Regions from separate parts of the Homo sapiens genome. Here regions 1, 2, 3, 4 and 6 are each linked to region 5. The links come from fine-mapping of genetic effects on gene expression. A gene starts in region 5. Each other region holds a variant in brackets. All regions are shown on one strand. Distances are between the middles of the regions.

Region 1 (5,074 bases), 110 kb after region 5:
CCTTCTTAGTGGCATATAAAACAGGCGCCCATTACAACAGGTGGCATCTCAGATTTGATGAACCAATGTGTCTCACAGTTGCAGATAGTAAGTGGCAGAACCAGAATTCCCAACTGGCTCTCTCTGGCTTAAAGCACTTTCACACTCACAGCCTAGTGGGAAAGTGAACATGAATGACCAAATCAGGGCTGAGACACTTCCCGGGACACAGCCATGCTACCTGCCCACAAAGTCTTAACCATCCTTGGCTTCCTATTTCTCCTACACCCTCCTCCCTAGCAGGCAAGGCTGCTGGTCACCGGGTCTCAAACAGTGGAGAGAAATCTGGTAATCACACTCCTTGATATTTACCCAAATGAGCTGAAACTGACATCCACATGAAAACCTGCACATGGATATTTATAGCAGCTTTATTCATCCAGGCAAAAACTTTGAAGCAACCAAGATGTTTTTCAGTAGGTGAATGGATGAATAAACTATGGTGCACATAGAAAATGGAATACCATTCAGTCCTAAAAAGAAAGGAGCTATGAAGCCATGAAAAGACATGAAGCAACCTTACATGAAGGTTCACTTACTTATTACTAAGTGAAAGATGCCAATCTGAAAAGGCTGCATACTGTATGATTCCAACTATGACATCCTGGAAAAGGCAAAACTACGGAGAAAGTGAAAAGATCAGTGGTTGCCAGGGGTAGGGAGGAGGGAGAGATGAATAGTCTCACTGAATAAGTGGAGCACAGAAGATTTTTAGGGCAGTGAAAAGATTCTGTATGATATCGTAATGGCGAATACACATTATTATACATTTGTCCAAACCCATCGCATGTGCAGCACCAAAAGTGAACCCAAATGTAAATTGTGGACTCTGGGTGATGACGAGGCATCAGTGTAGGTTCATTGAGTGTAACAAATGCACCACTCTCAGGGGATGTTGATAATGGGGGAGGCTGTGTGTAGAGGGAGGGGTGTTGTATATGGGAATTTTCTGTACCTTTCAATCAATTTTTCTGCGAACCTAAAACTGCTCTTTAAAAAAGGCTATTTTATTTTATTGTTTATTATTTCAACTTTTATTTTAGATTCAGGGGGTACATGTGCAGGTTTATTACCTGGGTATATTGCGTGATGCTGAAGCTTGGAGTATAGATGATCCTGTCATCCAGGTAGTAAGCGTAGTGCCCAGTAGTTAGGTTTTCAACCCTTACCCCTCTTCTCCCCTCCCCCATCTTGTATTCCCACCCCCACCCCTGTGTTTAGCTCCCACTTAAAAGTGAGAATATGAGGTATTGGTGTTCTGTTCCTGCATTAATTCACTTAGGATAATGGCCTCCAGCTGCATCCATGTTGCTGCATAGGACATGACTTTGTTCTTTTTTATGGCTGCATAGTATTCCATGGTGTATATGTATATGTACCACATTTTCTTTATTCAATCCGCTGCTGATAGGCACGTAGGTTGATTTCCATGTCTTTGCTATTGTGAATAGTTCTGCAATGAACATATGAGTGTATGTGTCTTTTTGGTAGAATGATTTATTTTCCTTCAGATGTACACCCAGCAATGGGATTGCTGTGTCAAATGATAGTTCTGTTTTAAGTTCTTTGAGAAATCTCCAAACTGCTTTCCACAGTGGCTGAACTAATTTACATTCCCACCAACAGTATAAGCATTCCCTTTTCTCCACGGGCTTATCAGCATCTGTTGTTTTTTGACTTTTTAATAATAGCCATTCTGACTGGCGTGAGATAGTATCTCATCGTGGTTTTGATTTGCATTTCTCTGATGATTAGTAACGATGAGCATTTTTTCATGTTTGCTGGCTGTTTGTATATCTTCTTTTGAGAAATATCTGTTCATGTCTCCTGCCCACTTTTTTTTTTTTTTTTTTTCCTTAGACAGGGTCTTGCTTTGTCATGCATGCTGGAGTGCAGTGGCACAAACGTGGCTCACTGCAGCCTTAACCTCCCAGGCTTAAGTGATCCTCCCACCTCAGCCTCCCGAGTAGCTAGCACCACAGGCATGGGCTACTATGCCTGGCTCATTTATTATTATTATTTTGTAGAGACAGGGTTTCCCCATGCTGCCCAGGCTGAGGCTGGTCTTGAAGCCCTAGCCTCAAGTGATCTTCCTGCCTTGGTCTCCCAAAGTGCTGGGATTATAAGCATAAGCCACCAAGCCCAGCCGCTCTTTTGCCCACTTTCTGATGGGGTTATTTGTTTTTTGTTTGTTGAATTATGTTCCTTATAGATTCCAGATATTAGACCTTTGGTGAATGCATAGTTTGCAAATATTAGTATTTTCTCCCATTCTGTAGGTTGTCTGTTCACTTTGTTGATAGGTTTTTTTTTTTTTTTCCTGTACAGAAGCTCTTTAGTTTAATTAGTTCCCACTCGTCCACTTGTCAATTTTGGTTTTTGTTGCAATTGCTTTTGAGCACTTAGTCATAAATTCTTTTTCAAGGCCAATGTCCAGAATAATGTTTCCCAGGTTTTCTTCCAGGATTCTTACAGTTTGAGGTCTTAAATTTAAATCTTTAATCCATCTTGAGTTCTATAATTTTGTATAAGGTGAAAGGTAGGGGTCCTCCAGTTTCATTCTTCTGCATACGGCTAGCCAACTATCCCAGCGCCATTTATTGAATAGGGAGTCCTTTCCCCACTGCTTATTCTTTTGACTTGGTCGAAGATCAGATGGCTGTAGGTGTGTAGCTTTGTTTCTGGGCTCTCTATTTTGTTCCATTGGTCTCTGTGTCTGTTTTTGTACCAGCACCGCGCTGTGAAAAAGGCTATTTTTTTAAGGTGGGGAGAAGGCTGGCAAAGGGCAGAAGAGGCACAGGGTGATTTGGGGGCTGAAGTCTTGATACAGCTGGGCCCCAGCCCTCTCTTCCTCCTACCCAGGGGTAGGCGGAGTCAAAGAAGGCCCCTGGGGGCGGGTCCTGGTGTATCTAGAGCTGGGTAGTGACAGTTGGCTGCTCCGGCAGGTGGCGTGGAGGCCCCGATGATGATCCGCCTGGTGAATGGCTCAGGTCCGCACGAGGGCCGCGTGGAAGTGTACCACGACCGGCGTTGGGGCACCGTGTGTGA[C/T]GACGGCTGGGACAAGAAGGACGGAGACGTGGTGTGCCGCATGCTCGGCTTCCGCGGTGTGGAGGAGGTGTACCGCACAGCTCGATTCGGGCAAGGTAAGGCGCTCTGAGGGCAAAAAACATGAGGAGAGGGCCTGCACATCCTAGGACTGGGCTCACCTCCAAAGCCCGAGTCCCTTCCACTGCAATTCCGCGAGGTCCCCAGCCTCTCCCCAAATGCTTGCTGCAATAAGAACTCACTGCCCCGCCCCAGGCAACCATCTCCGGTGGTCATCAGACAGTTCTGATGATTAGAACATTCTTCCTTTCGTGGATCTAAGTCCTGTCCTGGTGGTGTCCCATACCAGCCCTTCCCAGTCCTGTGTCCCAGGCACAGCTGCTGTGGTCTCTCTCTCCCTGGCTAGCTCTTTAGACCTTTATAACGTGCTCTCATGTCTCTATTATGTTTTTATTGTTAACACTTATATGATACTCAGTGTGCCAGCCTATGTTCTCAACATGTAACAAATATTTACCCATTTCATCTTTACAGCACTATGAAGTATACAGGTATCATCGCTGTTTTTCTTTTTTCAAGGAGGGAAACAGGATCTTGTTCTGTCATCTAGTTTGGAGGGCAATGGTGCAATCATGGCTCACTGCAGCCTTGATCACTCGGGCTCAAGCGATCCTCCCACTTCAGCCTCCTGACTAGCTGGGCCTACTAGCAATCTCCAGCTAACTTTTCTTCTTATTTTTAATAGAGATGAGGTCTCACTATGTTGCCCAGACTGGTCTCGAACTCCTGGGCTCAAGTACTCCACCCACCTTGGCCTCCCAAAGTGCTGGGATTACAGGCGTGAGCCACCATGCCCAGCCATCCCTGTTTTTCAAATGAGGAAATAAAAGTGCAGAGAGGTTGAGTAACTTGCCCAAGGTCACACAGCTAGCAAATGTCAGACCCGATGTTTAGGCCCAAGCAGGTGTCTTAGGAGTCTGTATTTGAACCACTCTGCTGGGCTGTCTCTGCCTCTCTGAGTCTTTTCTTCTCCAGATTAATCCCCAGATATTCATCTTGCCCTCATATGACAAGATTTGGAGAGTCTTCATCATTTTGGTTGCTTTCCTTTTGACACACTGAAGCACACTGACCTCCTACAGATAGCACAAGAGACTCTGAGGAAGGGGCACAGACCCTTCTTAGGTAGATGGCTGATTCAAACCCTGCATTTGTTTCCTGATGGAAAGAATCAGACTCTTGTGTTGACTCACAACTAAAACAATGGTCCCACATGCACAAACCTGGTACTCCCCACACCCATTCAGTAGTGAGCTTTCCCTTGATGGCATGTCCTGGCCCTGTTGCTTCTGCATTCTGGGTCTTGGTGTCCTGTCTGTAACTAAAGGGCCTGCAGGCTGCATAATGGGTCTCCCAGCCTGGGCCCCCTGGGATTTAAGATGCCACTGCTCACCTGTGGAGAAGACCAGGTGGGTGTGGGGAGGGATTGGGGCTGATCCTCTCACACCCAGTTACCAGGCCCCCTGGTGACCTGTGGATGGCAGCCCACTGACGGCAGGGTTCCCCACATCATGGAGTGGAGCCGGGCGTACCTGCTGTCTTGCCTGAGGTCATTGCTGTCCAACCCACTGTGCTAAATGGCTACAGGGTGAGGGGAGAAAGTGGCATGTCCCTTCCAGATGGGGACTCGGAGCCAGGTCACATCCAGACTGGAGGTGGAAGCCTCCACTCCTCCCAGCCGCCTTCCTCTTCATCCCCATAAGGGGCTGCTGCAGTTCTTGGTCTGAATCTCATCCCATAGATCTCATTGGTAATTGACTGAAAGTGACCCTTGGTGAAATCTGTCGAGCCAGCTGGCAGGGAGTGCCGTCTTAAGGGCCAGAGTTTGAGGGGCGAGTTCGAAGGGATCCGGCACCATGAAGGGCAGCCTACCAGGAAAGAATACTGTTCTCCCACCTAAGGCTTGGGGCTGGATTCCAGCTGGTTTTGA
Region 2 (5,074 bases), 130 kb after region 5:
TTTTAAAATTAGAAAATAAAAAGAGTTGACCTGCTGACTCCATTTCCTCACTCCCACTCCCTCCTCAGCATGGTCCAATCCATCCCCCCATTTAGGGCCACTGAAACTTTCCTAGGCTTACCAATGGCATCTTCCTTGGTACACCAAACACATCTTTTGCAGCCTTTATCATATCTGATCAGCATTCAACTCTGTTGTCTGCCTTCTTCTGTTTGTAGAATGAAGCAAAGCCTCGGCTGAGTGCAGCAGCTCACGCCTGTAATCCCAGCACTTTGGGAGGCTGAGGCGGGTGGATCACCTGAGGTCAGGAGTTCAAGACCAGCCTGGCCAACATGGTGAAACCACATCTCTACTAAAAATAAAAAAAAATAGCCAGGCATGGTGGTGGGTGCCTCTAATCCCAGCTACTCAGGAGGCTGAGGCAGAAGGATCACTTGAACCCGGGAGGCAGAGGTTGCAGTGAGCAGGGATCACACCATTGCACTCCAGCCTGGGAGACAACAGCAAAACTCTACCTCAAAAAACAACAACAACAAAAAAAGAAGCAAAGCCTCATCTGTGGCTTTGCTGAAACCACATGTTTAAGGTTTCCCTCTGACCTCTGTTGCTGCCCGTCCTCAGCATCCTTCGCAGGCTCACCTTCCTCTCTGGCCACTGAGTGCTGGAATGCCTCAAAGCTCTGTTCTACAAGCAGTCCTTGGACTATTTCATGCATCTCTATGTGCCACTGACTTGCAAGTGAGCATCTCCAGATGAGACATCTCTGAACATCCAAGCATGTGTCTCCAAGGGCCTCCATTATCACCCAGATATCACAAAGGCCTCTCAAATGCAATCTGGCCAGCTCACTCATAAGGAAATAACCCAGTGAAAAACTAGGCAAAACATTTGAGAAGACAGTTCAGCAAAGAAGATACACGTATATCAAATAAGTGCATGAAAAGATACTCCACACTGTCAAACCACACCACTACACACCCATGAGGAGGGTCAAAATTTCCACACACACACACAAAACCCAAACCTGGCAATACCAATTATGATGCAGGTACACAGCAACTGGAACTCTCATACTCTGCTGGGGGGAATGTGAAATGGCTTAGCCATTTTGGAAAATAGTTGAGCTGTTTTTTATAAAAAGGCCAGGTGAGGTGGCTCACACCTGCAATCCCAGCACTTTGGGAGGCCAAGGCAGAAGGATCACTTGAAGCCAGGAGTTTGAGACCAGCCTGGGCAACAGAGTGAAACCCTACCTCTACAAAAAAATAAGAATAAAAATTAGCCATGCATGGTGGCATGCGCCCAGGACTCCAGCTACTTGGGAGGCTCAGTTGGGTGGATCCTTTGAGCCTAGGAGTTCAAGGCTGCAGTGAGCTATGACTACACCACCGCACTCTAACCTGGGTGAGATGACTGAGACCCTGTCTCTAAAAAAAACAAGATAGTCCTGGCGTGGTAGCTCACACCTGTAATTCCAGCACTTTGGGAGGCCGAGGCAGGTGAATTACTTGAGGCCGGGAGTTCGAGACCAGCCTGATCAACATGGCAAAGCCCATATCTACTGAAAATACCAAAATTAGCCAAGCGTGGTGACGTGCGCCTGTATTCCCAGCTACTCAGGAGGCTGAGACATGAGAATTGCTTTAACCCAGGAGGCAGAGGTTGCAGTGAACTGAGATCGAGCCACTATACTCCAGCCTGGGTGACAGAGTGAGACTCTGTCTCAAAAAAAAATTAAAAGATTAAAAAATATATAAAGTAAATAAATAATAAATAAGATAAAATATGAAATATAGTTAAACATAAGCTTATATGAGCCAGCACCCCAACTCTAGGCATTTACCCTAGAGGAATGAAAATCTCTGTTCACATGAAAGCCTGTCCATGAAACTTTATAGCAGTGTTATTCATAAATGCCAAAACAAAGGGGTACACCCAAATGACACACTACTGCTTAGGAATGAAAAGAAATGAACTATTGACACATGCAAGAGCACAGATGAATCTCAAATATGCTGTGCTAAGTGAGAGAAGCCAGGCCCCAAGGATTACCCACTGTATGATTCCACATTGGGACGTTCTTGAAAAGGTAAGAGTATAGAGGCCAAGATGATACCAGTATTGCCAGGTTTTAGGAGTAAGGAGAAGATTTGACTACCAAGGACGACCTGGGGAAGTTTTTGGAAGATGAAATTATCATGTGTCCTAATAGCAGTAGTGATTATGTATGCACAATTGTTCAAAATTCTTAGAAATGTATATTCTCCAAATTAAAAAAAAAAAATTCTGAGTTCTGGCCGGGCGCAGTGGCTGATGCCTGTAATCCCAGCACTTTGGGAGGCCGAGGCGGGTGGATCACCTGAGGTCAGGAGTTCGAGACCAGCCTGGCCAGCATGGAAAAACCTCGTCTCTACTAAAAATACAAAAATTAGCTGGGCAGGCTCATTACCTGTACTCCTAGCTGTTTGGGTCACTGAGGCAAAAGAATTCTTTGCACCTGGGAGGCAGAGGTTGCAGTGAGCCAAGATCAGCCACTGTACTCCAGCCTGGGCGACAGAGCAAGAGTCTGCCTCAAAAAAAAAAAAAAAAAAAAATCCTGAATTCTACTGTGAGTTAAAAAATTAAAATACAGTAAGT[C/G]CCCAGTGAAATCAGGATGTCCCTCCACCCATCCCTACCATCACACTGTGGTCCTCCACCCTCCAGCTCAGTGAACGTTGCAACTCACCCAGCTGGGAGGTGGCAGCTCCCTCTCTCGCTACTCCAGGGAGTGCCTCACTCTTCCCATTCGCAGCTCCCCACCTCACTTAGACTTTCTCAGCCAGCCCTTGATACCAGCTCTCTTGGACTTCTGTACCTTCCTAGCTAGTCTCATCATTTCTACCCTTGCCTACTTTTAGCCAATGTTCCATGTAGCAGCCAGAAAGGATTTTAAAAACACAAATTAGGTCATTACATTCTTTTGCTGAAAACTTTTCAGCAAATTCCCATTGCTCTCAGGATGAAATTCAGAGTCTTTAGGGCTGGTCTCCTCCTTCTCACTCTGGCCTCACCGGTGCCTCCACTGTGTTCACCTTCACCCTAGCATGCTGGCCTTCCATTTCCTCAGAAGCATTGAGCATCACACTCCGTCCAGCCCCAGAGCCTTTGACCCATTCTTCTTTTGGTCTAGCAGTTCTTCTCTTCTGCCACTCTGCTATGTTGATTAACTACCACTTTTCTGCCAGATTTCAGCTCCAATGTTCCTTCCTTCTTGCAGATTTCTAGCAGTTCCCAGGCTAGGGCAGGTGCCTTTTTTAAAAAATGTTTTCATATTACCTGGAATCTTTTTTCAGGGCCCTTATAGCAATTTGTAACAAGGCTGAAAATGTCCTGTCCACCTAAGACAGTAGTTCTCAAATTGTGGTCTCTAGACTAACAGCATCAGTGTCTCCTGGGAACTTGTTAGAAATGCACAATTTCAGACCCCGATCCAGACTTTCTGAATCAGAAACTCTGGGGAGGGGTTCCTGAAGCCTGCATTTCAACAAGCTCTTTAGGTGATTCTGAAACACGCTGAAGGTGAAGAACAACCATCCTAGTATATAACTGATCGTTCTATGTCCATGGTAATGAACAACCACAAGAACTGGGTTTAAACCTGTTTAATCAATCAAGGATAAGTTAATTGGATAACTATGCTTCTTTAAGCCAATTATTTTTAATTAGTGATTAACCATCTACATTGTCATCATCAACAATAAAAATAAACCCTTACATTCATATAGGGTAATCAATTTAAGACAGCTTTACAAGTTACCTGATTTGGTTTGCATATTTGTTCGGTGAGATCATTAAGGCAGTCATTATTATCCCCGTTATGTAATGAAAAAAATGACCCACCGGAGGTTAGGTAAATTGTCTCAAGTCACACAGCTGGTAAATGACAAAATTAAGGTAAAAGATATCCAACCTCTAGTCTAGCACCCTATCTGTTGCACCAAGCTTTCAACATGTGTAAGCAATCATTACTGTAGAAGTCAGCTTCATGGATCTTATAGCAGTGTGCAATAAAAGTAATTTAGAACTGACCTCCTTTTAGCAGAAATGTAAAACCTTTTCACCTCCCACATTAACCCGTTTTGTTATCCCCCACTCCACACTTAGTGATAGTAAAGGATGGCATCATCCATCCCTCTGAGCGTGGAGCCTCCACCCTGCAAATAAGGATGAGCACAGCCTCTCTGTTCTCAGTGTGATGCGCCTGGTGAAGAACCTTCACCTGCCAGTGGGGGCTGGGTGGAAGAAGAGAACATCAGGCCTCTTGGCTGGACTCACCTGGAATTTAGCCCTGGAATTTACAACACACAGCTGATGAAAAATTCTGTGGCCTGCCCCTCCCAGGAACATACCATACCCGAAAGTGGGAGCCGACGGGAGAGGGAGCCTTGCGTTCTTGGCTTTACCTGCCTAGGCTGGAGTTTCTGCCACAGTCAACCCTGGGTAAGGAAGGAGTTACGGTTCAAATGCCATGGACTCTCAATGTTCTTACCAAATTTTACTCCATTTTCTTGAATAAATGTTTATTTATTTGCTATATACTCTTAGGACAATTTCCAGAGACTTTAAATACTGAGGTTTGAAATATATTTTTCACCAGTTATGCTGGCTTTGCTGGAGACTGTGGAGCACCTCGTGTGGCCATTCTGGAAGTGGAAATGTAAATGTTTGTTGTTTTTAAGCTGCTAAGATTGTGGTAATTTCTTATGCGGCATAGGAAAGTACTGTGTGGGGAACTAGTGCTCTACAAAATTTACTTTAAGAAACACTGATATAAGCTAATTAAGCATTGAAATAAGTTGAGAATTAAATTAATTTGAAATGATCATATTGAATGATTAATGGAAAATATACTGATTGTACTTATTTCAACAGTGAAGTATTTTTAGATATGATTTTGTTTTTGTTTTTTTTAGACGGAGTTTTCGCTCTTGTCGCCCAGGCTGGAGTTCAGTGGCACTATCTTGGCTCACTGCTACCTCCACCTCCCCGGGTTCAAGCAATTCTCCTGCCTCAGCCTCCCCAGTAGCTGGGATTA
Region 3 (5,074 bases), 96 kb after region 5:
TGGGATCTGGCCTTCCAGACATTCTGGTTTGCCAAGATCCCATCTTAAGCCTTCCAAAAACAAATCCAGTGACTCTTCCTGAAAGCTCCCAGTGACCCCTTCCATGGGAGCTTCTACACTGCTGTGTGCAGAAAACAGTTCAATTCCGATTAATCCATGCTGTGAGTGGTTTGATGGCTTCACATACATTCAAGAGGACCTGGAAAAATTAAAGGCCTGGCCCCTTTAAGAAGTCAAGTGGTAAAATAAGGATGTGCAGAGGCGCCTGCGAGTCAGGGACAGCTGAGCTCGTTGTATTACTTTCATCTCTTTAAAAGATATTTTCAGCATCCCTGGCCAGAGGGAGAGAGACCAGAGCTGGGCCCGTGCCCTGGCAGGGAAAAAATGCTTAGGCAAGGAGAAATGAAGCCCCTCTTGGGAATCCTAAGAGGTCATTAACAGGGCCACTAATATTTGTATTCTGGATATATGCTAACTGAAGGCAGGAACCAGGGCCAAAGCCTGGGAAGAACTGCTAGTTGGAAGAAAATAAACAAGGCACTGTGGAGTTTATGTTCAGAGTTAGCAGCCAGGTGAGTGTGTGGGACTTGGGAGGCGTGGCTGCTGTGACGCCTTATCTAGTGGGGGCATTTCACACGTAAGTTGAGGTGGCCAGTTTGACTGCTGCCTAATCCCTGTTCTTATGTGTGTTGCCTGCTGTGTCTCCACTTCTCTGCGTACACAGGCAGCCGAGCCTGCGGTGCCGCCCTTCCCTCCCCACCAGGGACTGGCATCCCCAATTCTCTGGCAGACATGCAGTGGCTTTGGGGGTTTGCCCTGCAAGAAAACTGTCTTAGTAATACCCACATCAGACGAAGGTGAACACGGAATCATCTATGAAAACCAGTGAAAGAAATGACGCTGGGATCTTTGATGTGGGTTTTGAACAAAGAAAAGTTTTTACGTTGAGATGTACATGAAAACCAAGAGTGGTTTGACTGTTTATTTAGAAAACATTTCAAACAAACTTGGGAATCGTCCTTAATCTCCGTGACCCCGAGCTCCCGTTATGCTGGGAGTGGATGCAGCTGTGGGCTCTGCGGATTGAGTCCGGGAGGTCCCCGGGAGCCTTTGATGTCACTGGATCAACTCTCACTGCCACTACATGAACTTCACAGCCCTAAGTACCCTCTGTCCTTTGACATGGAAGCCACCCTTGGAGGGTGTTTGGGGCCAGCTATCTAGTTGGACTTACTTCCCCTGGGGCTGGATTTCAGCCTCTTCTTTTTCTTTTTTTTTTGAGACCGAGTCTCACTCTGTCGCCCAGCCTGGAGTGCAGTGGCACAATCTCTGCTCACTGCAACCTCCTGCTCCTGGGTTCAAGCGATTCTCCTGCTTCAGCCTCCTAAGTAGCTGGGATTACAGGTGCACACCACCACACCCAGCTAATTTTTGTACTTTTAGTAGAGGCAGGGTTTCACCATGTTGGTCAGGCTGGTCTCGAACTCCTGACCTCAAGATCCACCCGCCTCAGCCTCCCAAAGTGTTTGGATTACCGGCGTGAGCCACTGCGCCCAGCCTCAGCCTCTTTTCTTTAGGGAGCCGTTTGTTGAATTCAGATGGAAGAAAGAGACAGACGAAGCCATAGTAAACCTCCCTGGGAGGTCTTGGGGCCATGGTGGCAGGAGGGGGTATATGGCTGTCTTTCTCGCTGACTCAGAGGTTTGAAAAGTCACTTGTCATGGTGCCTGGGTCCCCCACCATGATCCTCAGGGGTTGTATTGAGTTCAACACTATTGAGAGGCAACCACCCCGGTCACTGAGCTCCTGCATGTTTCAGAATAACTCTGGGGTATGTCGTCATCCCATCTAACTGAGGAGGGAACCATGCTGAGAGTTTACACTCCTCACCCAAGGTCCTAGAGTTAGAGAGGGGTAAACCTGGTTCTCAAGACAGTCCTGACCTTTGAGGATTTATGGTGCAGAGGTGGAGAAGCATCACGGAAAGGGGACTCAGACCTAGAACATAGAGGAGGAGGAGAACTGGGATAGGAACTAGGGCAAGGAGGGGATGGCAGAACCCTCCCAGGAAGGTCCACTAGCCCTGGGCACATGAACCTGAGCCTTCAAGAAGGGTGCCTTACGGATGTCAGCACCTCCCCACAGGGTGTACAGCAAGGAGGGCTGCAGGCCTGATGAAACAGGCACATAGCATCACTGTCTTCTCCTGGCTCTCCAGCATTTCTTTCTGGTTTTAAATGCTTGTTGACTCTGACCTCTCACTGCCCTCTGAGAGGTTCAGGAGCTTAAGAAAGAACAGGATTCACTTGTCCACCCAGGCCACCCAGGAAATTCCTACAAATCCAGCTCTAAGCAGAGCTTCTGGGCCTTAACAGCATCCTCCCACTGTGATGGGGTGAGCTCCTGGTTCAGGACTGGGCAAGGAAAGCGCTTC[G/A]TTTATTATTTGATCAGACACACTTTTTATTGAACACCGGGTAGCCAGGAATAGCAAGATCAGAGCAAACTTCCAGTTTCCAGAGAATATGAAGCACGGCTGGGGAGACAAAGAGGGGAAGTCACAGTTTTTAAAAGTCCAGTACGATCCTCAGGGCAGTGACAATGCGGGAGATAGTTCTGTTGCTCCTTCTACCCAGCAAAGTCCCAAGTACCCCGTCTGACCCCTAAGTGGAGACACAGCACTTTGGAAACCCAGGTGTGGTCCTGGCGTGGCCGCCTTATCATGTGACCTGGAGAGAGTCACTCACTCCCCTTCTCTGAGTCTCAGCTTTCTCACCTGTAAAATGGGGCTAACACCACCTACCTCAGGGGAGGACAGCAAAGACCCCATGAGAACTGCTAATAAAAGTGCTTTGAAGAGTTGTAAAGGAACGTATTAAGAGCAGATTGGCATTAGGAAATAGCATTTTACAAAGCACACCCACAGGCCAGACAACATTTTGAAAGCGATGCCCTCCAGGACAGCCTGATCAGAAAGTTCTTTTGCTTTTGGGATGGCCCCTGTCCTTCCCATATGGATCACATTTCCTGCCGAGCAGTGTCACCTCAGCCTCAGCAGAGCCCCTGTGCCTCAGGCCGGCTGGGGGCACGGGGAGTTCTTTCTTTACAAGAGAATGAAAGTTCAACTTCCTTAATGGGCAGATGGTCCGAATTATCCCTAGGGCTCTACTCTGCAGCTGCAGAAAATCAGAGCCTATATTCCCAGCCCCATGTGTTTATTTCTATTCTCCACAACCTCCTTTCTTTCCTCTTGTTTTGCTCTTTCAGGGGGACTGGAAGGCAGGGAAAACAAACATAAAGGAGCTGCAATCTTCCAGGCTTAGGGTGGGCTTTCCCTCTGCTTTTCTGTAGAGGCAAAGTTCCCTGGACTTTAGGTCCCTTCTGGTGCACAGCCAAGCAGGTTTTGGGGTATTTAGTGACCAGCTCCGTTCTCAGAGCCCCTCAAATGCTGTGAGTCCCATTCATCCATTCATTGCCCCACTCATTCATTCCACACCATCTGTTGAGCACTGGAACGTGCAGGCTCTCTGTTTGCTGCAGGGATGTGATTTGGAACCACAAGGATGCAGAATGGTGGCCCCCTTCACGCAGCTTCCCATGGGGAGTGCAGAGAGACACGGAAGAGGGAATCATGGTGCAGGATTTCTCATTAGTGGAGAGCACATGCTGGGGCCACAATCAGGGAAGCCTTCCCAGAGGAGGTGACATCTCTCTGCCTTACTCACAAGGCCCCACAACTAGGGAGTTGTGTAGCCGGGGCTTGATCCCAGATCCACATTCTCCCACAGAGCTTCTCAGCCTTGGCTGTGCACCAAAATCACCTACGAATTGTTTAAAACTGGCCCCTCACACTGGTGGGTTTCAGAGCTTCCCAGGTGCTTCCCAGATACAGTCAAGACTGGAGCTACTGCTTTCAGTCTAAGACTCATTCCCTTAAGCCTGAGAAGAGTGGATCCGGCAGACCCCATAGGGCTGTTGTGAGATGGATGAAAAGCACTTTATGTTTGGAGAGGGCTGTTATTAAATATTTGTCTTAAGCATTCAGCCTGAGAGTCGCCTCTGTGGATTGAAAATAACAAGCCTTTGCCCTTCTCTCTGACTCTTCCATGTGGCAGCTGTGTGACCCTGAGCAAATTTTTACTTGACTTTTCTGAGCCTGTTTTCTCTTCTGTTAAATGAGCTGTAATAACTAACTCATGGAGCTCCTCTGAAGAAGAAATGAGCAAATGCACGCACAAAGCACTTTGCACAGTGCCCAGCCTGTGCACGACGGGACCTCAGTAGATAATCATTCTCTCCTCTTTTTATGCCTGACTTGAGCTCTGTCCTGGGTAGTACCCAGAACTTGGCTGTGTTGTCGCTGGGTTTGGGGATGGCCCTGAGCCAGGTGTGGCCAAGCCCTGCTGGCAGTAGATAGCTCTGAGGTTACCCCAGCCTTGGAAGCCAGTTCTGAGAGATGGCAGCCACTGGCCACTACACAGTCCTCCTAAACCCGCTGGGGGCGGAGTAATAAAACCACTTGCTCAGTTGCGCTGAAAGAAGGAAAAGGCTGTTCCTCATCTCACACCCCAGTGATAGCCATGAATCCCCAAGCACACAGTGTAAAATAAGGTAGGGAATAATCAGATGCAAAACCCTGGGATGTCCAGAGATGCCAGGGCGAGTAAGTGAAACCAGATCCTGGCTTTAAAATCCTGTAATGCATTCCCCAGAGATGCTGTCGGGTTCCCTTCCATTCCCAGAGGCAGGATGAGCAGCTGTCTGGTGTGCTACAGAGAGGAGAGGATCTGTGTGTTTGAAGTAGAGGGGAGGGGTTCAAGGCCAATGTCCGAGACCCCTTCCAGCTCCAGGGTTCAGGGGCATCTGGGGTAAGACTCAGCCTGCTTTGCCTGGGACCTTGCTTGTCTGACATATATATTTACAAAACAAAGAGAGCAAAGAAATGTTTGTTTTGAGAGGAGAATCCCCACATAGTAGATTTCTAAGGTCTGCACTAGGAGCTCAAGCGTGGTCGCAGCCCTAGCATTGCATTCCTGGGCCATTCCAGAGCTGCCTTGCTTAACAAATAACATCCAGT
Region 4 (5,074 bases), 190 kb after region 5:
CATCCATATAACCTAGATTAGGTAAATTAGCAAACAGGCTTGTTTGTGACATTGGAAACTTTAAACATCAATACATAGTGTCAGTTCAAAGTGTGTACATGGGAATTAAAACTGGACACTCATTTTTTTGGTTGAGATATAACTCATATACTGTAAGACTCACCCTTTAAAAGTGTACAACAGAGTGGTTTTGTGTATATTAACAAATATTGTCCAGTCACCACCACTATCTAATTCTAGAACATTTTTATCATCCCAAACCCCGTACTCATTATTAGTTGCTCTCCATTCATCTTTCCTCAGTCCCTGGAAACTACACATCTACTTTCTGCCTCTGGATTTGCCTGCCTCTTATGGACATTTTATGTAAATATAATCATACAATGTGCGATCTTCTGCAACTGATTTATTTCAATTAGCATAATGTTTTCAAGGTTCCTCCATGTTGCAGTGTGTGCCAGAATTTCCTTTATGGCTGAATAACATCCCATTGTTATTATTGTATCGATATATCACATTTATCCATTAATCACAGATTGGATTATTTACACTTTTTTGGCTTTTATAAATAATCCTGCTATGAACCTTCATGTGCAAGGTTTTGTGTGGACATGTTTTCTTGAGTATATACCTAGGAGTGAAACTGCTAGGTCACATAACAGTTTAACTTTGAGAAACCATCAGATTGTATTCCACACCAACTGCACCAGTTTACATTCCTACCAGCAATGTACAAGGGTTTCAGTTTCCTCTACATCCTCACCAACACTTGTCTGTTTGATTACAGTCATCCTACTGGGTATAAAGTGGGATCTCACTATGGTTTTGTTTTGTGATTTCCCTGATAAAGATGTTGAGCATCTTTTTATGTTGAATTAACCATTTGCAATTTATCTTTGGAGAAATGTCTACTGAAATTCTTTGTCCATTTTTAAATTAGGTTGTCTTTTTATTGTGTTATAAGAATTATTTTATGGGTATTAGACCCTTAGACAAATGATTTGCAACTATTTTCTCTCGTTCTATGGATTGTCTCACAAATCCACTTTTTTAGTTATGCTTATGAGTTATACCAAGTCTTCATTATCTAGTCACTATCAATGACCATGTACAGCTTCTGTAATTTTTCAAACCTTTACTTTGTATAGATTATATTTATTGAAGCGTAATTTCACATCTGTTAAGTCTAAAACAATTTGAGATTGTAGTTTTGTTTTTTCTATTTTTTTCTAGCAATCCATTTTTATTTTATTAGTGTTGGTCTGTGACAAATTAAACTAGTCCTTTAGCACAGGTAGTTTGAAAAGCAGTGGGCTAGTATGTTTCAGACCTGGAATGTTGCACCCTAGACTGAGTACATCTAGTATGGTTTTTCTAGTACCAATACCTTCCTTAGCCTGACTTTAATAGTATTTATACTGAAGTATCTTACCAATATCCTTCCCTTTAGCTCAGAAGCCGAGAGGTTCTGGGAAAGCTATGAATCTAAGGTTCTGGATCTAGATCCATTTTATTTCTTACCTGAGGGTATCAACCAGTCGTCTTGCAATGCGCTTTCTTCTCTTCAGTCTGAAAACCCAGATTCTACTTATCCCACAGACTGCAGGTTCTGGTACATCTGAACATTGCCAAGCCCTAGGACATTCCGTAGAGCTTGGGGATTCTGGACCAATTGGTTCAGACAGGACACGAAATGCCTGCAATGATATACAGAAGCATCTATAGCTAACACCACAGATGAGTTCACACTGCTTTAAAAAAAAATTCCTTAAATAAGTATCAAAAATTTAACTTATATCTCCAAGTATGTTAAAAAATATTTTCTATTTCTTAAATTCTTATCCCTTTAGTCACACAATGCTTTAAAAAAACTAGTGGTGTTGAGACATTCACAAATTCTAGTGTGTCCCATAGCATTACGAGACTTTCCTCTTAAACAATTGTAAACATTAGACTCTTCCTTTTAATAAAGTATATAAAACTCTCTCATTCTCTCCATCCTAAAATGTATATATGACCACCTAAAGAAACCAGTAACACTAAAGAAGATTTATATCTATTAACTATGAAATTTGGTTGGCATTTCGTTTCTTAAACATTTTTATTTTGAAATAGATTCATAAGAAGTTGAAAAAAACCACTACAGAGGAGCATGTATCCTTCCCTGAGTTTTCCCCAATGATTACATCTTCCATAACTGGTATAATACCAAAACCATGAAATTACCATTGGTATAATGGTGTGTATAGTTTCATGACACTTAATCACACCTGTATATACATTTAACTACCATCACAATCAAAATGCAGAACTATTGAGTCACCACAAAGATCTTCTTCCTCATTATAGTCACATCCACACTACCCCCTCTCCCATCCTCAGTCCCTGACAACCACCAATTTATTCCCCATGGCTATGAGAATGTTATATATTATATAAATGAAATCATATACCATATGACCTTTTGAGATTGGCTTTTTCCCACTCAGCATAATGCCCCTGAGACTCATCCAAGTTGTTAAGTGTATCAATTCTTTGTTACTTTTTATAGCTAAGTAATATTCCATCATATGGCTGTATCATAGCTTATCATTCACCTAAAGCATTTAAGGACACTTTGGTTGTTACCAGGTTTTGGCTATTACTAATAAAGCTGCTATTAACATTCTTGTACAGGTTTTTGTGTGTACATCAGTTTTCCTTTGTTTTACTTAAATGCCCAGGAGAACAATGGCTGGATCATATAGTAAATACATGTTTAGTTTTTTTTTTTTTT[A/TA]AAGAGACGGAGTCTCACTCTGTGGCCCAGGCTGGATTGCAGTGGCACGATCTCGCTCACTGCAACCTCCACCTCCTGGGTTCAAGTGATTCTCCTGCCTCAACCTCCCAAGTAGCTGGGATTACAGGCATGCACCACCACGCCCAGCTAATTTTTGTATTTTTAGTAGAGGCGGGGGGTTTCAGCATGTTGGTCAGGCTGATCTCGAACCTGACCTCAGGTGATCCACCTGCCTTGGCCTCCCAAAGTGCTAGGATTACAGGTGTGAGCCACTGCGCCTGGCCTATGTTTAGTTTTTAAAGAAACTTCAAAACTTTTTCCAGAGTGGCTGTAATATTTTACATTCCTACTAACAAGGTGTGAGAGATCTGGTTTCCCCATATCCTCACTAGCATTTGGTATTGTCTCAATTCTTTACCTACTGTTACCCTTCTGACAGGTGTGTATTTAGTTTTTAATTACGAACAACACAACATTGTTTCTGACCTGAGAGTAGAAGAGAACAGTTAGTTAGCTACATCTTGCCTATTATCAGGACATAACAGTCTACTTCTTTGAGATCGAAGAAGGAAAAGGCCTCTTAAATAAATACACAACATAAAAAGATGTAAACTGTAAAATTAGTAATGTTGAAGGGAAAAAAAGTGCAGAGCTTTTGTAGGTGATATAAATTGTTATCAGCTTAAAATAGGCTGTTATATTATAGGATATTTTATGTAAGCCTCATGACCATAAAGCGAAAACCTATAGTAGATACATAAAAGATAAAGAAATCAAAGCACACCACTACAGAAAATCATCAAATCCCAAGGAAGACAGCAAGAGAGGAAGAAGGGAATATATATAAAACAACCAGAAAACAAAACAAAATGGCAATAGTAAATCCTTATTTATCAATAATTACTTTAAGTGTAAATAGAATATGTTTGCCAATCAAGACACACAGAGTGGCTAAATGGATAAAAACACAAGACTCAACTAAATATTGCCTACAAAAGACTCACATAGACTGAAAGTGAAGGGTCAGAAAAACGACTCCATGCAAATGGAAACCGAAAGAGAACAGGAAGTACCTACACTTACATCATACAAAATAGATTTTAAGTCAAAAACCATCAAGAGACAAAGAAGGTAATTATATAATAAAAGGGTCAATTCATTAAGATAAAACAGTTGTAAATACATATGCATCTAACATTGGAGCACCTAAATATATAAATATTTAGGATTCTGAAAGGAGAAATAGATAGGAATACAAAATTGTAGGGGACTTCAAGATCCTACTTTCAACAATGGATACATCGTCCAGACAGAAAATCAATAAGGAAATGAACTTTTTTTTTCTTTCTTAAGAGATAGGGTCTCACTATTGCCCTGAGCGGAGTGCACTGGTGCGATCATAGCACACTGCAGCTTCGAACTCCTGGGCTCAAGTAATCTTCCTGCCTCAGCCTCCTAGGTACCTGTGACTATAGGCATGCACTACCATGCCTGGCTAATTTTTGTAAAGACAGGGTCTCACTATGTTGCCCAGGCTGTTCTTGAACTCTTAGCCTCAAGCTATCCTCCTGCCTCAGCCTCCCAAAGTGTTGGGATTACAGGTGTGAGCCACTGAGTTCAGCCAGTAAACACTGAACTTACACTTCAGACCTAATGGACCTAACAGAAACACATATAGTATTCCATCCAATAGCAGCGGAATGAATGCACACTCTTTTCAAGTGCACACAGAACATTCATAGCAGTATAAAATTAGAGATCAATGACGGGAGGAAAAGTAGAAAACTGACAAATATGTGAAAATTAAACCACATGCTCCTGAACAACCAATGGATCAAAGAAATTAAAAGGGAAATTGACAAATTTCTTGAGACAAATGAAAATGGAAACACAACACACCAAAACCTATGGAATGCAGCAAAAGCAGTTCTACATAAAAAAAGAAGAAAGATCTCAAGTAGCCTAACGTTACACCTCAAATAATTAGAAAAAGAAGAATAAAGCCCAAAGTTAGTAGAAGGAAGAAAATAAAGATCAGTGGAGATAAATTAAACAGGGACTCAAAAAATAGAAAAGATTCGCAAAATGAAGAGTTGGTTTTTTGAAAGATAATTGACAAACCTTTAGCTAGACTAAGAAAAAAGAAGACTCAACTAAACAAAATCACAAATGAAAGAGGAGACATTACAACTGATTATCACAGAAGTACAAAGGATCGTAAGAGACTATGAATAATCATATATCAACAAATTAGGTAACCTATAAGAAATAAATTCCTAGAAGCATACAACCTACCTA
Region 5 (5,074 bases):
CTTCGAACAGGGCGGGAGGTGGGAGGACAAGCGAGGATGAGCGTGGAGTCCTCACATGGCAGAAAGGCAGAGGATCAAGCCAGCCCACTCCTGCAAGCCCTTTCTACGGCATCCCAAATACATTCATGACTCAAATACCCCCACAAAGGCCCCACCTCCCAACACTGTTGCAATAAAGATTACATTTCCAATGCTTGAATTTAGGGGGACACTAACTACCACATTTCTTGCTAACATACACATCTCTTTAGGGAAGGTCTTTGGACATCACTTTTTTTTTTAAGACAGGATCTTGTTCTGTTACCCAGTCTGGGGTGCAGTGGTGCGATCACAGCTCACTGCAGCCTCAAACTCCTGGGCTCAGTTGATCCTCCCATCTCAGCCTCCCAAGCACCTGGGACTACAGGTGTGCATCACCACGCCCAGCTATTGTTTGTATTTTTTTTTTTTTGTAGAGACAGGGTTTTGTCATGTTGCCCAGGCTGGTTGGACATCATATTTTGAGCACATTTCTGGCTGTTTTTAAGATTACATTCCTAGGAATGTTGGTGAATTGATGGGGGACAAAAACATTTGTTTCCCCTTGAGAGGCAATGGTACAGGGGAGGGGTTAAGAGCATAGACCCTAGGATCACATTGCCTAGGGTTGAATACTAGCTCTGCCACTTACTGGCTACAAGACCCTGGACAAGTCACTTCCTCTCTGTCTCTGTAAATGAGCATAATAGCAGCACCTGCCTCAGGGGGTTGTTGAATAGGTTCAATGAGCTAATATATAAGAAACACATGGTATATGCTATAAAGTGTTGTCTTCTTTTCCTTCTCCTCCTCCGCTCCCTGGGATTATTACCATAATGATACAATTATCATTTGTTCTTTCTGTAAAATGGAGTTTGATGTTGGAGCTGCTTCCTAGGCAGTCAGGCAGGGCAGTCACTGAGAATGAGGACGGCGTTTCTGACTCAGCTGTGGGCGGGCAGCTGCAGTGACACAGCTGAGTCTTGGCAAACACTTTTCATGTACGAAGCCTGACCCTGGAGTCTTGAGGCTGAACTTTTCACCAACAAACAGGAATGCATTCATGAATGTTACCTCTGGGTGCTGTCCTCTGGAAGCCATCTGCATAGCCTAACTCTGCCACCCTGGCTTGGACAATTATGGTGATTTCTCTGATGCCCCTGATACTACCACCTCAATCTGAATTTAGCAGCTCCCTTCACATATGGTTAGATTGCCTTTAAAGAGATTTTTTTTTTTTTTAGAGATGGGGTCTCACTATGTTGCCCAGGCTGGTCTTGAACTTGTGGGTGGGCTCAAGCAATCCTCCCACCTCAGCCTCCCAAAGTGCTGGGACCACAGGTGTGAGTCACTGCACCCGGCCTAGATGTCCTTTTTCAAACGTAAGCAATCATGCTCAGGTTTAGGATTATTCGTGCCTGGGTCCCCCTCCCATACTGAATTGCTATGGACAGCCAGCTAGTCTTCATCCTGCACCCCCCAGCCCCTGTGCAGCGTTAATGAGCCAGAAACGCTGATTCTGCTGCTGAGTTCCGTGGAACCCCCTGGGGCATTTTCCTGACTACCCCCAGTGTGGCCAATCCGTGTCCACTGAGGATGAATGTGACTCCAGGAAAATACATGAAGTAACTCTGTGCCAAGCTTGGTGAATGAATTGAGCCATGCCAATTCTGTGCTATAAATAAATTTACAAGACTGGTTTTCTTGCGTGGCTCATAAGCCAGGTCTAGCTGCCACTCCCCCAGAAGTCTTCCAAAAAGTATTTTGAGCAGGACCTTTAGACTGGGGTGTTGGAGTCCCAAGGCCAAGGCCGACCGCGCTGCTCTGGGCCCAGCGGGCGTTCCCACACGGGGCTGTAATGCCACGATTGGCCGCAGGAGGGGGGCCGTATTCCAGACCCCATTGCAGAAGCCTCCGCAACTGCTCCAAGAACTTTATTTTATACGGACTGGCGGCGAGAGCAGCTGCAGTTCGCATCTCAGGCAGTACCTAGAGGAGCTGCCGGTGCCTCCTCAGAACATCTCCTGATCGCTACCCAGGACCAGGCACCAAGGACAGGGAGTCCCAGGCGCACACCCCCCATTCTGGGTCCCCCAGGCCCAGACCCCCACTCTGCCACAGGTTGCATCTTGACCTGGTCCTCCTGCAGAAGTGGCCCCTGTGGTCCTGCTCTGAGACTCGTCCCTGGGCGCCCCTGCAGCCCCTTTCTATGACTCCATCTGGATTTGGCTGGCTGTGGGGACGCGGTCCGAGGGGCGGCCTGGCTCTCAGCGTGGTGGCAGCCAGCTCTCTGGCCACCATGGCAAATGCTGAGATCTGAGGGGACAAGGCTCTACAGCCTCAGCCAGGGGCACTCAGGTGAGTCTTGGTACTAATTTTGTCCTATCTCCTGGGCATGCTGTCTCAAAGACAGCTGGAGGAGACTGGAGTGAACTGGATGGAGAGGAGTACAGAGTTTGGGAAACTTCAGACCTAGAGCCTGGAGGTGCCTTCTCCAGGTGGGAAGGTCCCCGCCTGCTGGGCCCGCAGATATCTGCCGGGCCCTCATCCAACTGCCTGGGCTGGAGAGAATGTGAGCCTGCATTTGGGGTGCCAGAGGGAAGCTATTGCCTTGGTGGCTACTCCACCTGACTCATGTCACAGCTCAAGAGCCTACTCAGGGTGCAGATGGCTCAGGTGACAGCTCCTCTCCATGGCTTCGTGTGTGTGCATGTGTGTGTGTGCATGTGTGTGTGTGCATGTGTGTGTGTGTGCATGTGTGTGTGTGTGCATGTCTGTGCGTGTGCATGTGCCAGTGGTGGGATATATGTGGGGAGAGGTTATTTCTAAAATATCTGTCTCTGTCCAGCTTTGGGTTATGATTTAGCTTAACTAAGTACAGTTAGAGGAGGAAAACATTTAAAACCTCCTTAGTGATTCTCTCTTTGGAGAAGGGCCACACTCATGTGATTTTTTTCCTTGGTTTTGATGAGTTTAAAGTGAGGTAATCCAAAGAAAAGCCATAAACCCTGCAGAGTTAGATGCGGGTACCCAGAGAAACTGACTTGGTAGCAGCAAATGAGGCTCGTGCTACCCACTCAGAGGAGGAATTAATGGAGTCCTTCTGATCTCCAGAGAAGGATTGAAGAGCCAGGGTCCTGATATCAGCCCTAGAGTGCATTCGCGATTGCCTTTTACAAAGGGAACTTCAAACAGCTTTGTTTCTGAGACTGGCTAGGTAGGAGGGAGGCCTTGGGAACCTGGACACCCCCTTACCTGGCTGCCAGGCAGAGTCAGAAGATGCTGGGGGATGCTTTTTCTCATCAGACTGCCACCAGCTCCCCTGAGTGACCTTGTTCATAAAGTCATGCCACATGCATTATCTCACGGGAGGCTCACAGTGATCCTGGGTGACCAGCAGCTACCCACCTTCCCATCTTAGAGGTCATGTACCTGAGGCTGAATGAGGTCAGGTAATTGAGCCAAGTTCCCCCAAGAAACCAATACGCAGAGGAGCTAGGATGGGAGCCCTTGGCTTCTGTGTTCCCTGCATTCCTGCAGAGAGCCAGGCCTGCAGGGCGCAGATGGCCCCAGGGCACAGGGCTGCAGGGCACAGATGGCTGAGGGCTTTTCCAGCTCTAAAATGCAGAATCTAGAAGCAGATCCCTGGCTCTGAACCTGCCCTTCTAAGTGCCTTGGGTGAAATTGTCTGGAAGTAAATCATGATTGCCAAGAGGTTAGTGGAGAGGGTGACACCTCCCTGTTAGAGCAAGACCTCCCTCTTTGAGTTGCAAGTTGAGGTCCAGTCTCCTTGGGCTTCATCCACAGGTCACTGTGGCTTCCACATCTCGCCCATGTGCTTCAAGCTCTCAGAGCCCTGCCTCAGTCCCAGGATCCCCACCTGCTGGAGTACACTGGCTGGCAGTCTGAGGTGGGATTCTCTTCTCTGCCTGATCTGGGGCCCAGAAAGTGGTCACCAAAGGGGCTGACATGCAATTCCCAAACAAAGCAACCCTGCAGCTGAGCCAGTGCCCTGTGTAGGAAAACTGTGCCCGGGGCCTCTTCCCGCTCTGATATCCATTCCTTCCTTTGCCTCTTTGGTCTGGGATGGCTTATGTTTAAAATGGGAGGGACGGAATGCAAATGCCATCAGCCTACCCCCAACACAGTGCTCCTGGGAGGAGCACTTGCCATCAGTTTCATCTTCTAGAGCACAGACTTGGTCCAAAGACAGTAAGATCCATGATCTGAGGGTCCCAATGCCTGCTTCCTCCCCCAAGAAAGAAAAACAGCCCCCAAGAAACCTTGGGCAGACAGAACATGCGTAGGTTTCAATTCCAAGTAACAAACATGAGTAGAGTTGTCTGAGCTTTTCCAAGCCCTGTGCACTCACATCTGGCCCCGCTCGGCCCCAGTCCCTCTCCCCAGCAGATCCCCTGGGCTCCTGCTGGACCAGCTGAGGGGTGGGGAGGAGGAAGGAGACAGCTGCCCTTCACACACATTCTGGCTAACAAGCCGTGCATTCCAGCCCCGTCCCAGGAGCTGACCAGAAGAGGAGGAAGGTGGAAATGGCAGTGGGGCCTCACACCTCCACTCCCCAGGGGCAGCGCCCTGTCTGGCTCTGTGTGGCCTCTGGGAAGCAGAGGCTATTGCCTTTGGCAGAGGGAGGGTTATTGCAGGCAAAAGAGACATTGGCCTCCTGCTTCACAGCCCCGCAAGGAGTGAAGCCAGAGGGAGGGCTGCCGCACACAGTGCTCATGAAATGAGGGAGGGTCCCTTGCAACTTAGCAGTGCTGGAGCTGCCCGCGGCCCCACCTAGAGGCCCTGCCTGGGTGGAGGCATTGGGTGGAGGGCCGGAATTGGGAGCCCAGTGAACTGGACACCACTGCAGCACAGGGAAGCCAGAGTGGGTGGTGTCTGGGGCAGGGAGGAGAGATCCTGGCAGAGCCGAGGACCACCCCCTGTTCCATCCCTCCCATAGGCTGGAGGAGAGGCCCGCAGATACTGGGAGCCCCAAGGCTGTGTGTGTGCACATGCGTGTGTGTGCCCGTTATGGGGGATGTACAGAAGGGCTAAC
Region 6 (5,074 bases), 100 kb after region 5:
TGAAAAAATAAACACAGACATTGATAAAATATACATAAAGAATTAATACAGATAATGCATTTTTAGTGCTGCATATCTGTGCACGGGAAGTAGAATCACCCCGGACTTCAACAAATATTATCACTTTCCTCAAAAGCCAAGGCTGGTTTATCCTTCCCCTGCGTGCAATCGTTGACATGTTCATTTTCAAATGCAAACTCAGCAATGGCTGTGCTTCACAAAGGCAACCCTGTCTTCTTGGTTCTCCCATAAGACTCAGGAGAAACCAAGCTGTTTCTATGAATTTTAGTTAGAAGCATTGCAGTTCCAGGGTTAAAGTAATTGTTTTTCATGTAACTGCTCCATCAAAAGGCATCTTGCATCAAAGTCGTGATGCAAATTGGTGGACCATGCTCAGGGATCTTCTGAAGAAAGGATTCTGGGAAAGAAAGGAGGGTGTAGATGGAGAACTGGCCCGAGGGCTAAGTCTCAAGTTCAGGCCCCAGCTCTTCTGCTAGCTACGGGATGACTTGGGTAAGGCACGTCACCTCTCTGGGCCTCTGCTCCCACACGTGTCATGCAAAGAGTGTGGACTGTGTCATCTTCAAGTCTCTACCAGCTGGCAAATGCTATGCTTCACCATCATTTGTGATTATTGGAAAAGCCCAAAGATGATGTCATAATTACCGAAAAATCACTCCAAGCACTAAGTAATGGGACATCTGTTGCCGACAACTAAGCTAATGGAAGTTGTTCCTAGTGATATCCTGAGAAAATGCTAAGATTCCTTGTCCAGACCCATGCCTTGATCTTCTCCATGACCTGGCCTCATCTGTGCCTCAGCTGTACCCTCTTTACTGGGGAACAAGCTCAAGCTTTGAGAGATTTGGGGCCTGTAGAAGGAGGGTGGCTGAGGACCATGGGGTTGGTCCCGGTGGGGCCTGGGTGAAGGGCAGGCTCAGTACAACAGGTTGAGGAATGGGGAGGCAGGTGCTGTGGTCTGGGGCTGCAGTGAGGCAGAGAGCTCCAAGCCGAGGCTGGAATTGACACTCCAGAAAAGTTGTGGGGTGAAACAATGAGCCCCTTGATCTGGGAGACAGCAAGGAGGCTACCCAGCCAGGAGCCAGTCTCCTGCCCTGTGTTCCCTCAAACCACTTTCCTCTCCTAGGGTTACACAGTGAAACCAGGCAGGGATGCTCTGGTCTGGGCTTTGAGGTGACAGCACTTTTCTCTTTCTGCTTCTCTGTATCAAAGGGAAGAACCTTGGTCACAGGGTGTTGATGGGGCTTGTAACCAAACCGAAGTGGGATCTTCTTGCCTGGCATGGTAAAGCCAAACATCCATACTGAAGTTGTGCAGTGGGAGGAAGCATGGTGTTTATTTGCAAGGCACCAAGCAAAGAAAATCTGGTAGCTCACACTTAAGACTCAACCTCCTGGATGGCTTACAAGCAAGGCTGTTTAAAGGCAATGGTAAATTTCAGGAGAGCAGAAGTTACAGGCAAATTTCTAAATCAAGACATGGATGTTATACATTGGTTTGGCCTAAAAAGGTGGGAAATCTGGAAGCAAGGGCTTACAGGTCATACATGGCTTCAAAGACTTTCTGATTTGCAATTGGTTAAGGAAGGGAAACTTTGTCTAAAAACTTGGGTTCAGCAGAAAGGAATATTAAGGTCTGGCCTGTGGATGTGACTTCTTCCAGGTCCTCAGAGCTAGCTAGGTGCCTGGAATTTTCCTTTATTCTGTGGCACTGGAGAATAAAGAATAAACACAATCATTAGCTGGGCATGGCAGCATGCACCCTGTAGTCCCAGCTACTTGGGAGGCTGAGGCGGGAGAGAATGGCTTGAGCCTGGGGGACAGAGGTTGTAGTGAGCCGAGATCATGCCACTGCACTCCAGCCTGGGTGACAGAGCCAGACCTTGTCTCAAAAAAAAAAGTCCGTCAATCAGAGTTCAGGCCTCAGTTTCCCCTCATTTGAGGTCTATATGCCAGCAAATCCATTTGGTTCTGGGTTTCTGAAAAACATCCAGCTGGGTTTCTGAAAAACACCTCAGGGACATATGTTAAGATGTTCTCTTTAGTTTCTATAGAGAGTCATCAGAGGTTGACTCTAACTTCTTTGACTATTGCTTTAAGCTACTATTTCTTTCTTTCTTACCAAGTTGCTCATTTACTTCTTGGGGCTAGCCTAGAATTTCCCTTGAAGATACTCAAGATTTTCTTTTATTTCCATGTTTGGGGGCCTAGCAGCCCCTAAGTCCCTGCTCCATCTCGGGCTTGTGGTCCCCAGTTCTGGGGAAGCAGGGAAAAGATGAACAGAGATGAGCCCTGTGGATATCTGGGTGTCTCTGCTATGGGGGGCAGGGGTGGGCATTACAAGAAAAAGCTCTGCCAAAGCCTTGTGGGATGGGGATTGGAATAAGCTGTCAAGAACAGCCTCTCCTTGTTTTTAGTAAGGAATAGCTCTTGGTGTTTCCCTTCAGCTTGGGTTTTCCAGCCAAGTGATGCTATGTGCCGGTGCCATTCCTGCACAGAGCTGGTAGGGACCAGCCTTGTAGCCAGTACCATCCTCTTAACTTGCAAACCATGAAGGCATGGACAGGTAGACCCCAGTCTGCAGGTTAGGGATCCAGAACAAGAGGAAAAGTGTGATAGTCTCTGCACCTAACGCCCTCACCTGAGGGGTGCAAATCAGATACCCACACGGGAGTGGTATGGGGCAGGGTTTTCTTCCGGGTTGCTGATCCTCATTTGCTCAGGAAGGGTTTTCCAGGGCTCAATGTGGTATGATGCCAAGGAGGAGGTGAAGGTGCCTCGCAGTCATTGAAGGGCAGTTACTAGGGGACGTGGCTGCAACCTCGAAAGCCTGGGGTCCCATTGCTCATCACCAGCTCTCTTGCCCTTTGCCCTCTACCTGGAGCATCTGCTCTTGCTTTGGAGCCTAGGAGTCTCTGAATTTCACACAATCAAGAATCCCTGTCTCCCATTTTCCTCCACTGCCACGTGCAGAGAGAGGCATCTCCCTGACTCCAGTAGCCCCGTTCCCCCTGCAGGGACCCTCCTGGGGGGCATCTGAGGAAAAAACTCCCTGGACTGACAGGAAGAGTCTTGGGGAAGTCACGGACCAGGCTGAGGCTGCCTCTCAGTCACCAC[T/G]TCTGATTAAGTCGGGGCTGACACATTGTGGGGCAAGAGCATTTCCCAGTGGTGGTTGGTGGCTTGGTGGGAAAGCTTTGACCTGGGGCAGAAACTGCCGGGAAAAAGCAGCATTTAAACCCTCTGCCCACAGAAACCCAAACCTCTTAAATGATGACGTCCTTCTCAGGCTAGAGGGTAGTCACTGTTGGAGGGCGTTGGTGATTCCCCAAGTGTGTTGCTGGAGGTGGCCTCATTGCTCAGCTCTGGGAAAGGCTCCTGCCTGCCTGCCTCCCCTATACCTCTTCAGGGGTAAAGGAGGCCAGAGACACAAGTTTCTGAATTTAGACTCTGAGTTCCTGAATCAGGGCAGCCTACATCATAAGCAAGTCAGACCTCAGCCTGTGGTTTCCCAGAGAGGTGGTAACAGAGCTGAGATTTTGTTGGGTGGGGAGAAAAGGATGCAAAATCCACAGCTTAGGGCCATGCTCTGTGAAGTGGAGCTACAACAAAATGTGGCCTCTGATTTGGGTGAGTCCAGGGGAGAAGGTGTGGCTTTCAGATTTGTGTTGACCCTGCTGGGGCAGGCAGCATCTGTTGACCCTGTGGGCAGGCGGCCCTCCACCATGGGGGGAAGCCCTGAGTCTAGGGGATCTGGGGACAGGTGGTGAGGAACAGGCCTCCATGCTTAATGAACCGACACTGGGGTCTGGGTGGAGTGGTGCCTTGTGCAGCCTCGCCCAGGTGCTCTCTAGTTCTTTTTCTCCCTTGAGGGCACTTTTCAGTTCCTGAGATCAATGTGGTCCCTACTGGGGAGACCATAGGAGCCCTGCAGGCCATGACTTTGCTCAATGCATGGTAAGCATGGGCCATGGGCCAGAGACATCCTTGAAATTGATGCTTTGCATCCCGTGATTATGGTTATCATATGTTTTCAATTTTTTGAAGGTGTCTTGTTTCCAAATATTCTTCTATCACTTCTATATACATTGAAACCTCTTGGGAATTTCAGTATTTCAGCATCCAAATGACATTTTCCAGACTTCCCATTGCACCCACCATGATCATCTGACAGCCATGTCCCCATTCTCTCACTTGAGATGTACGGTCATTGTAACAGCCTGAGCTCTGGGTCCAGAATCCAGAGTCATCTCAAGTAGAGAAGGCAGCAAGTATGTGATTAGAAGTGTTGTGATGTAATAAAGAGGATGCTGGAGATTTGGGGCCCTGATGTTGGATTCTCCATTCAGGTTGCCACCAAAGCCCTGGACTCTGGGGAGCCATGCCCTCCAGCCAGCACCTGCCCATCTGGGTCCATATTAATGAGTCCCTCCATTCATGCATGCCTTCCCTTTGCACAGGCTGGGTATCTCAGTGCACCGGGCCCTGTACCAGGTCACGTGATCCTCAGAAGGCTCACAGTGTCCTAAGAGAGTAAATAGCAATAGCAATTATGACACAAAGCTATAAGCATGTACCTAGAAGGGGCCCTGTTGGGTGTGGGGACCAGGGAAGGAGAAGAGGCATCTAAGCTGAGATCTAAAAGACAAGGAAAGCTTAGGCCAGAGTACAGAAAGGAGTTTTCTGAGGTGGGGGAGTCCACGTCCTTCCTCAGCTCATTCAGGTCTCCACTCAAGGCCTTCCTTCTCTACTCGTCCAAAATGGCACCTGCTCTCACTCCCCACCCTCTTCCTTGTTCACTTGTCCAAGACAGTACCTGCCCTCTCATTCCCTCCCTTGTCCACCTGTCCAAGATGGTGCCTGCCCTCTCTCTCATTTCCTTCCTTGTCCACTCGGCCAAGATGGTGTCTGCCCTCTCTCTCATTTCCTTCCTTGTCCACCCGGCCAAGATGGTGCCTGCCCTGTCTCTCATTTCCTCCCTCCTCCACTTGTCCAAGATGGCGCCTGCCCTCACTCTCCACTCCTTTGTTCACTTGCCCACAATAGTGCCTGCCTCA

Alleles and levels. Alleles are on the strand shown, and positions count from the first base shown. SD is a standard deviation of normalised expression in the study named. Not every link is listed here.
As copies of G replace C in region 2, the expression in fibroblasts of the gene that starts at base 1,960 in region 5 goes down (moderate effect, 0.60 SD a copy in GTEx).
For the expression in monocytes after R848 of the gene that starts at base 1,960 in region 5, allele T in region 6 goes with a higher level than allele G (large effect, 0.77 SD a copy in Quach 2016).

Evidence for each region. PIP is the estimated chance that this variant, and not a neighbour inherited with it, causes the effect.
Region 1: its variant is fine-mapped to the expression of SCARA5 in whole blood (TOPMed, PIP above 0.99).
Region 2: its variant is fine-mapped to the expression of SCARA5 in fibroblasts (GTEx, PIP above 0.99).
Region 3: its variant is fine-mapped to the expression of SCARA5 in whole blood (TOPMed, PIP 0.95).
Region 4: its variant is fine-mapped to the expression of SCARA5 in whole blood (INTERVAL, PIP above 0.99).
Region 6: its variant is fine-mapped to the expression of SCARA5 in monocytes after R848 (Quach 2016, PIP 0.95).

The regions. Positions count from the first base shown.
Region 1 is chr8:27,877,677-27,882,750 of GRCh38, reverse strand. It overlaps SCARA5 (scavenger receptor class A member 5), which reads left to right. Exons shown (of 9, transcript NM_173833.6): 8 at 2,985-3,182. Among named protein-coding and RNA genes, the nearest start is that of MIR4287, 5.9 kb to the left of the region's middle. RefSeq lists an enhancer at 4,626-5,074. The variant C/T (reference allele first, on the strand shown) is at 3,088.
Region 2 is chr8:27,855,883-27,860,956 of GRCh38, reverse strand. No RefSeq gene overlaps it. Among named protein-coding and RNA genes, the nearest start is that of PBK, 21 kb to the right of the region's middle. The variant C/G (reference allele first, on the strand shown) is at 2,638.
Region 3 is chr8:27,893,297-27,898,370 of GRCh38, reverse strand. The region is part of intron 7 of SCARA5 (scavenger receptor class A member 5); the gene reads left to right. Among named protein-coding and RNA genes, the nearest start is that of MIR4287, 9.7 kb to the right of the region's middle. RefSeq lists enhancers at 2,537-3,448, 4,961-5,074. The variant G/A (reference allele first, on the strand shown) is at 2,435.
Region 4 is chr8:27,796,164-27,801,237 of GRCh38, reverse strand. ESCO2 (establishment of sister chromatid cohesion N-acetyltransferase 2) reads right to left here. Exons shown (of 11, transcript NM_001017420.3): 10 at 1,522-1,697. Among named protein-coding and RNA genes, the nearest start is that of ESCO2, 24 kb to the right of the region's middle. The variant A/TA (reference allele first, on the strand shown) is at 2,777.
Region 5 is chr8:27,989,559-27,994,632 of GRCh38, reverse strand. SCARA5 (scavenger receptor class A member 5) reads left to right here and starts at 1,960. Exons shown (of 9, transcript NM_173833.6): 1 at 1,960-2,376.
Region 6 is chr8:27,884,911-27,889,984 of GRCh38, reverse strand. The region is part of intron 7 of SCARA5 (scavenger receptor class A member 5); the gene reads left to right. It overlaps MIR4287 (microRNA 4287), which reads left to right and starts at 3,869; the gene lies at 3,869-3,946. The variant T/G (reference allele first, on the strand shown) is at 3,138.